2 separate regions of the Homo sapiens genome follow, and region 2 is linked to region 1. Evidence: fine-mapped expression QTL. A gene starts in region 1. The other region holds a variant in brackets. All regions are shown on one strand. Distances are from middle to middle.

Region 1 (4,335 bases):
ATGTTCCCACAAAAATTAAACATTAGAAAAAAGAGTTGCATTTTCAGCTGTTATGGGGAGAAGAAAGAAAAGCTATCATTTTGTTGTCCTAAAAATTATGTTGTCCTCATTTCAAACAGGAAAGCAAAAGTATTTGAGAGCCAGTGCAGTGCCTTGGTGTTGGGTGAAACATAGATTGAATTTGGGCCATTTGTTTAAACTTCCTAGGCCTCAGTTTCTTGCCTATTAAAAGGGAGTGCATAGTTCATGGGATTGTTAAGAGGAAGAAGTGAAACCATGCACGTGGAGAGCGTGGCACAGTGTCTAAGACAGAGTGTGCATGCAAATAAGTAGATAATATTCTTTGCTTTTCTTTATTGCATGCCTGTAATATTTTTGGAGTTGTCACATTCATTGCCCTCAAGTAGCATCAAGGGATGAAATTATGTTTGTAAGAAAATCCTGAGGCTGAGGAATACAACATGTTTTATGTCTACTACACTGAAAAATGCCGGAGTCAGATAAAGAATACAGATTCTCCTGAGGATGGAAATCAAGATCTTCGCCTTCAATATTTAACAACATTGAGCTTCCAACTTACTATGGGAAATATTCATCAGGCCCCTAAAGGTTCCTTTTGGACAGAAATTGCACTTGTTATATCTGTATTCTTAGCAGACAGTAGACAGCCTGGCACATCATAAAGGCTTAAGGAATCCTAAATATCCCTTAAAATTCTCATTTTAAAGACAAAAACAAAACAAAAAAAAAAAACAAAAAAAAACTGAGGCATGGGCTTGACCAAATCAGTGGTAGAACCAAGAGTTAAACCACTTGTTTTGAATCCTAAACCTGAGTTTTATTTTACTTATTTATTTATTTATTTGTTTATTTATTTTCAGATGCTTGGTCAAAGAACAGTGGGAGGAGAGGGATGGGCTTCCAGCAACCTTTATTATTGGCTTATTTTCTTACAGCCCATTACTTTCTCTTGGGAAAATATTAAGCAGGCACTCAAGGCTTGAGGCCCCTGAGTTTTCACATCCTTTCTGAACCTCTGAACCTGCTTTCCAGCATTCTTTTATACTTTGTTTTACCTCCTGGTCAGTAATGCCTCACCCTCAGTCTTCTCTAAAAGTGTGGTTAATGGCATCTTCCTGACTATTTGAAGACCACTGGCCAAATCCCACCAGCTCACTCATAGACCATCCCCCTACTTTACTTTCTTCAAAAGACTTAGCCCTACCTAAACTTATTTATATGTTTATTTTCTGCCCACCAGAATGGCAGCATAGCTGGGGAGGCAGAGTCTGTTTTGTTCATTGCTGTATTCCCAAAGACTAGAACACCACCAAGCACACGGTACAGGTCTCAGTAATTATTGTCAAATTTATGTGGATTTGCTTTTAAACAATATCTTCCATTTACTGAGTGTTTATGTGGAAGAACTGTACTAAATTTTAATGCATTTCTTTATTCCTATTCTTAAAACCTTCCAGCAAGGTGGCTCTACCACCCTCTTTTCCGAGCTTCAGGAGCAGTTGTGCGAATAGCTGGAGAACACCAGGCTGGATTTAAACCCAGATCGCTCTTACATTTGCTCTTTACCTGCTGTGCTCAGCGTTCACGTGCCCTCTAGCTGTAGTTTTCTGAAGTCAGCGCACAGCAAGGCAGTGTGCTTAGAGGTTAACAGAAGGGAAAACAACAACAACAAAAATCTAAATGAGAATCCTGACTGTTTCAGCTGGGGGTAAGGGGGGCGGATTATTCATATAATTGTTATACCAGACGGTCGCAGGCTTAGTCCAATTGCAGAGAACTCGCTTCCCAGGCTTCTGAGAGTCCCGGAAGTGCCTAAACCTGTCTAATCGACGGGGCTTGGGTGGCCCGTCGCTCCCTGGCTTCTTCCCTTTACCCAGGGCGGGCAGCGAAGTGGTGCCTCCTGCGTCCCCCACACCCTCCCTCAGCCCCTCCCCTCCGGCCCGTCCTGGGCAGGTGACCTGGAGCATCCGGCAGGCTGCCCTGGCCTCCTGCGTCAGGACAACGCCCACGAGGGGCGTTACTGTGCGGAGATGCACCACGCAAGAGACACCCTTTGTAACTCTCTTCTCCTCCCTAGTGCGAGGTTAAAACCTTCAGCCCCACGTGCTGTTTGCAAACCTGCCTGTACCTGAGGCCCTAAAAAGCCAGAGACCTCACTCCCGGGGAGCCAGCATGTCCACTGCGGTCCTGGAAAACCCAGGCTTGGGCAGGAAACTCTCTGACTTTGGACAGGTGAGCCACGGCAGCCTGAGCTGCTCAGTTAGGGGAATTTGGGCCTCCAGAGAAAGAGATCCGAAGACTGCTGGTGCTTCCTGGTTTCATAAGCTCAGTAAGAAGTCTGAATTCGTTGGAAGCTGATGAGAATATCCAGGAAGTCAACAGACAAATGTCCTCAACAATTGTTTCTAAGTAGGAGAACATCTGTCCTCGGTGGCTTTCACAGGAATGAATGACCATTGCTTTAGGGGGTTGGGGATCTGGCCTCCAGAACTGCCACCAATTAGCTGTGTGTCTTTGGACAAGTTACTGTCCCTCTCTGTTGTCTGTTTACTCTTCTGTACACTGAAGGGGCTGGTCCCTAATGATCTGGGATGGGATGTGGAATCCTTCTAGATTTCTTTTGTAATATTTATAAAGTGCTCTCAGCAAGGTATCAAAATGGCAAAATTGTGAGTAACTATCCTCCTTTCATTTTGGGAAGAAGATGAGGCATGAAGAGAATTCAGACAGAAACTTACTCAGACCAGGGGAGGCAGAAACTAAGCAGAGAGGAAAATGACCAAGAGTTAGCCCTGGGCATGGAATGTGAAAGAACCCTAAACGTGACTTGGAAATAATGCCCAAGGTATATTCCATTCTCCGGGATTTGTTGGCATTTTCTTGAGGTGAAGAATTGCAGAATACATTCTTTAATGTGACCTACATATTTACCCATGGGAGGAAGTCTGCTCCTGGACTCTTGAGATTCAGTCATAAAGCCCAGGCCAGGGAAATAATGTAAGTCTGCAGGCCCCTGTCATCAGTAGGATTAGGGAGAAGAGTTCTCAGTAGAAAACAGGGAGGCTGGAGAGAAAAGAATGGTTAATGTTAACGTTAATATAACTAGAAAGACTGCAGAACTTAGGACTGATTTTTATTTGAATCCTTAAAAAAAAAAATTTCTTATGAAAATAGTACATGGCTCTTAGGAGACAGAACTTATTGTACAGAGGAACAGCGTGAGAGTCAGAGTGATCCCAGAACAGGTCCTGGCTCCATCCTGCACATAGTTTTGGTGCTGCTGGCAATACGGTCCCCACAACTGTGGGAAGGGGTTAGGGGCAGGGATCTCATCAGGAAAGCATAGGGGTTTAAAGTTCTTTATAGAGCACTTAGAAGATTGAGAATCCACAAATTATATTAATAACAAACAAAGTAGTGTCGTGTTATATAGTAAATGTGAATTTGCAGACACATTTAGGGAAAAGTTATAATTAAAAAAATAGGCTGTATATATATCAATGGTTCCAAAATTTTCTATGGTTAAGAATCACCTGGGATGGTTTTGAAATGGCAGATTCTAAGACAACTTGATTCAACAGGTTTAGGTAAAGCCCAGGGAACTGCATTATAAGAAGGAATCACCTGTAATTTTGGAGTCAAGATCCAAGGAACACTCATTGAGAAACACTGATTTACAAAGTGCATGGAGAGAAATGGAGCAAGTGAAGGGGGATCAGCATGGTGAAATATAGGCTGTTAGGAGTGCTATTGACTAACTGTCTGGTGACTGGACCAGAGTAAATCTTTTACTTTGCAAGAAACAGGACTAAATTCCCATATTATGTCCATAGCAAAGGGAATTATGTAGAAAAATTGATAATTAGGAGCCTGAGTTCTTGACCAGCCTCCACTACCTATGTGGCCTCAGGTGAGTTATTTTCTCCCTTTGGCTCTAAGTTTTCCCCATCTGTAATGTAAGGGAGTTTAACTAGATGAGCACTAAGGACAAATCAATTTCTGTGAGTCAATTATTATGAAATACCATGTGGGCATCAAATGCCAAGTGGAAAGCATAGATAAAGAAGTGATTGTGCACCTGGGCTGAGGGGAACAAACATTTCCTAAGAGAATTGAGACCCAAAAGAGCCTTTAAGGAAGGTGAGATCTTGGAAAGGGAAATTTGGTGAATACTCTAATGAGGAGCTAAAAAGGCAAGAAAGAAAGCAGCTTGGCTGGAAAGGAGGTTCCTGTAGGTGGGCCTCCAGAGATTCGGTACCACAGAAACTGCCAAACATCAGCAAGAAGCCATGGGGATGGAGCGTTTGAGGGATT
Region 2 (4,396 bases), 46 kb after region 1:
GCAACCAGAGCAGGCTAACTGCTCAGCAAAAACCCCCAGATCTCCGTGGCCAACCCAATAAAAGTTCACTTCCAATGTGGGTCAGTAAGGAAACTGCTCCACAAAGTCTTTCAGAACCAAGCCTCCTTCCACCAATGGCTGTACCCTCCTTCAACTCCTTGGAGCCCACTCATTCTGCCAGTGGATGGGAGAAGAGAGAGTGAGAATTGCTTCTGGGAAGTTTTCATGGGCCATGTCTGGAGATGACTCACATCCCTTCAATCAAATTCCATTGAGTAGAGCTCAGTCACGTGCCCACTACTAACTGCAAAGAAGATGGGGGAAAATAGTTTAGCAACGTTCTCTGAACAAAGGAGAGAGGACAGATCTTGGGGAGCACCAGCAACCTCTGCCACATAGACCCCCAACTCCAGAGCTACCTATTCCAGTTTACCTGGCAGCTGCACTGGAGTCTAGGCTACAGATCTACAATAGAGGGGGCTTCTTAGTGAAGAAAATATCAGCCAACACAACTGTCCTTCTGTGGATATTTCTACTTCTTGACCCAAGTCTTTGAAACTACATGGTTTTTTTTAATGGAGTTTCACTCTTGCTGCCCAGGCTGGAGTACAATGGTGCAATCTCAGCTCACTGCAACCTCCACCTCCTGGGTTCAAGTGATTCTCCTGCCTCAGCCTCCCACATAGCTGGGATTACAGGTGTGTGCCACCACACCCAGCTAATTTTTGTATTTTTAGTAGAGATGGGGTTTCGTCATGTTGGCCAAGCTGGTCTCAAACTCCTGATCTCAGGTGATCCGCTCGCCTCAGCCTCCCAAAATGCTGGGATTATGGGCATGAGCCACCACACCAGGCCTGAAACTGTTTTTAACCTTTCAAGGTGTGGGCATCAAGTTTTCCTGCTCTCCTGTAGGAAATTTCTTCTTCAGCAAATTGCCCAATAACAAGACTATATTTTTCAATACTTTTCTCCTTTTCTCTTCCTTTTGCCCACCTAATTTTCTCCACCTGAGGCCCTGTCAGAGTTCCTTCTAAGAGTCAGTCAGCTAGTTGAGTCATCAAAGACTTGTTGCATTCTTACTAAATTGCTCTATCCAAGCATAATTTGTGAAAAGTTAAAAACATAACTGTCATGCAGGTATATAGTGAACACCTGTCAAAGATCCATTTAACTCACTATTGAGGGAACCAGCAAGATGACAAAGATAGTGCAGAAAAGATACAAGAGACGAAAGTACACGTGGTCATCGGAAAATAGAAAGCCAGAATAAGGTCACAAAGATGGATGCACAAGTGATTAATGTTCCATAAGACAATAAAGCCATAATTATGTGTCTTAACCTTTCTACTAGGCAGAAACAACTTACAATTTGATAATAAAATGAATATTTTGCAACTTATTGGTCTTCTAAAAAGCCAGCATCTACTTTGAAGTGATTGTAACTTTATAAGTAGTAAATATATGTCCCCTTAGAGCACAGAGTGAGCTTGTGAGACAATGATCTCATATGACATTTAAAAGGCACACAGTAATTTTTTTGCCCTAGGTTTTGCAAATATATATATATATATATATATATATATATATATATTTTTTTTTTTTTTTTTTTTTTTTTTTTGAGGCAGAGTTTTGCTCTTGTCACCCAGGCTGGAGTGCAATGGCATGATCTCAGCTCACTGCAACCTCTGCCTCCCAGGTTCAAGCAGTTCTCCTGCCTCAGCCTCCCGAGTAGCTGGGATTACAGGCATGCGCCACCACGCCTGACTAATTTTGTATTTTTAGCAGAGACAGGATTTCACTATGTGGGCCAGGCTGGTCTTGAACTCCTGACCTCAGGCGATCTGCCCACCTTGGACTCCCAAAGTGCTGGGATTACAGGCATGAGCCACTGCACCTGGCCTGTTTTGCATAATTTTTGAACAGCTTCTACTTGGGGATATGCTGAGTGTGCTATGCCCTGAAAATCCAGTGATATGTAAAAGAGTTTCCTGAGTTTAATCATTATTAACATATGTGAGACCATCTGAAA[C/A]GAGAAACATACAACACACTGAGAGAAACCAATAAACTTTGGAAAAATCCAGGAAGACAGAAAGAACAGATAGTGACTTATTGGTCTAAACGAGTGGGGAAGAGGGTCCCACTCAGAGGGTAGAACACGTGTGAAGGCCTTGATGTGGGAAAGAGCATGGTGTGTTTAAGGAATTAAAGCAAGACCAGTGCACTCTGCAGCATCATAGGAAGGCCAGAGTGAGTCAGCACAGGGCTGGACACATAGACAGAGCTGGATCATGTAAAGCCTTGTGGACTGTGCTAAATATTTTGGACAATAGTCTAATAGCAATGAGAAGCCCTTGAAGGGCTTTTGAAGAGGCAAGTGGCCTCACCAGACTTGCACTTTATAAATATAATTTGGGATGAAGTGGAGGGGGTGAGAGGCCACTTACCCAGCAGCTACAATAGTCAGGCAAGAAATGGTGGTGGTCGAATGCAGGTGCAGCAGTGAGAATGAAGTAGGAAGGACAGACTCAGATGTTTGAATGGTAGAATGGGCAGAAATTGATTGCTGGATGTGAAGGAAGAGAGAAGGGGGAAGTAAAACAATAACTCCTGGCTTATGGGCTTGGGCAACTAGGTACATACATTTTTCCAGAATAGGCTTCTTGGCCAATTGTAGGGTGAGCAAAGGGATTGGGCATGGTCGGTGCTCCCCTAGTCTACTGTTTGCAAGTCCTCCTTGACCAATGTCTATAGGATGGGAATGGCAGCTACTTAATAAATGCCAGTTTGAACCTTTTGTCTTCTGTGTTCCATCCTTCCCCCAGTTGTCATGAAACATTATGAAAAATGCAAAAAGCCTCTTGTTATTGGCCTAGCTGAAATATACACAGCAAGGTAAGAATTCTGTAGATGTTGGTTTAAAAGCCCCTTGTGGCTGGTGGGGATCACTGACCCATTCCAGAGTACATCTTTTTTATATTCTGAGCCAGACTTCTCTGTCTTTGGATTTCCTGCCATTTTGCACAAATGCATCATGCTTTGAGCAACTACAATGTGCTCAGAATTTTGCTTAATGTGCTGCCGACATTACCTGACTTAAACTGTACAACACTGTGAAGCAGGTAGGATTGACAGTCTTATTTTACTGATGAGGAAACTAAGGCTCTGAGAGATAAACTGGCCACTCCCAGGCCATGCTCCTTGTGAATAAATGAATTAGTATTCCAACACAGCTTTTCTGACTTTAAAACCTGTGTTCTCACTAGCCTAAAGAGAGCACTTCTGAGGTTTAACCTTAGCTATGATATTAGGAAATGATGGAATAAATATCTCAGTCTACAAGAATACTCAAGACTTTTCCATATATGTAGTTACCCTCTCCCCTAAACCCACCCACACACACAAATTATACCTCTCAATACATGCAGACTTCAGTTGATGTCATGACTTGCATCCTGTAGAACTCTCTCGACTTTCTCCCGTCTTCTATCCCCTCCCCTCCCCCTCACCACTCCTTCACCAACAATATATTTTCCTGTCAAAACATACTTGGTTACATGCAGTGCAACTAAAATTGCTGCTATTAGTTTAATTGAGACAGGGTGATTATAAATAAATTACATGCAGTGCTACTGAAATTGCTGCTATTAGTCTAAATTGAGACAGGGTGATCAGTCATCACCAACTGTGATTTGATTCAGAATGTACTCCACATGGACGGCTACAGAGGCCCTGTGGTCGTCTGGTAGCCCAAGGAATGCAAGGCCAGATCCCCAAGAGGCTGGGCGTCAGGCCACAGAGCTCTCTGACCACTGGTAACTGAGAAAGCAAAACTCCCTGCAACCTGGTTGGTTGGGGCCCCTTGCAGGCTGATAATGAACTTAGAAACCAGGAGCTGGAAAGGGTCATGGTTAGAAACCTTCCCACATGGAAGATCTGTATAGTGCATTATCTGTGTGTGTGTTCCTGTATACCAATGTGTGAATCTCCTGCTACTTCACTAAAATGATTTGAGATGGATATTTAATACTATTTTCTTTTTTTTATTCTAAAAGAAACCCGTTCTCACATTAGAAAACTTGAAAAGCATAAATAGTTTTCAAGAATACAACTGTTAGTGTTACTTATTTTTCCCACTACCTGGAGGTAACACTTGTTAGAGTTTGGTGTATTTCTTTAATCATTTTATTTATATACTTACATATTTCCTCTGACATAATTGATATATGACATAATTGACATAATTGATAATATCAACTGGGTATACAGTATTACATTAGCTTTTATTTTCACAAGTAGAAAATCTTTAAACCACCTAGGCAAGGTACATGAAAGATAAACAATAAAGGCAAATGGGGGTAAGAACTGTTCATGGATATCTCATTCCTAGAAGCAGCAT

Evidence for each region. PIP is the estimated chance that this variant, and not a neighbour inherited with it, causes the effect. A credible set is the group of variants that fine-mapping cannot tell apart.
Region 2: its variant is the best candidate, but not a certain one, in a credible set for the expression of PAH in prefrontal cortex (CommonMind, PIP 0.88).

The regions. Positions count from the first base shown.
Region 1 is chr12:102,914,989-102,919,323 of GRCh38, reverse strand. PAH (phenylalanine hydroxylase) reads left to right here and starts at 2,080. Exons shown (of 13, transcript NM_000277.3): 1 at 2,080-2,253. The coding sequence starts at 2,194.
Region 2 is chr12:102,869,145-102,873,540 of GRCh38, reverse strand. All of the region lies in intron 4 of PAH (phenylalanine hydroxylase), which reads left to right. The region is part of intron 1 of LOC124902999 (a long non-coding RNA gene); the gene reads right to left. Among named protein-coding and RNA genes, the nearest start is that of PAH, 46 kb to the left of the region's middle. The variant C/A (reference allele first, on the strand shown) is at 2,030.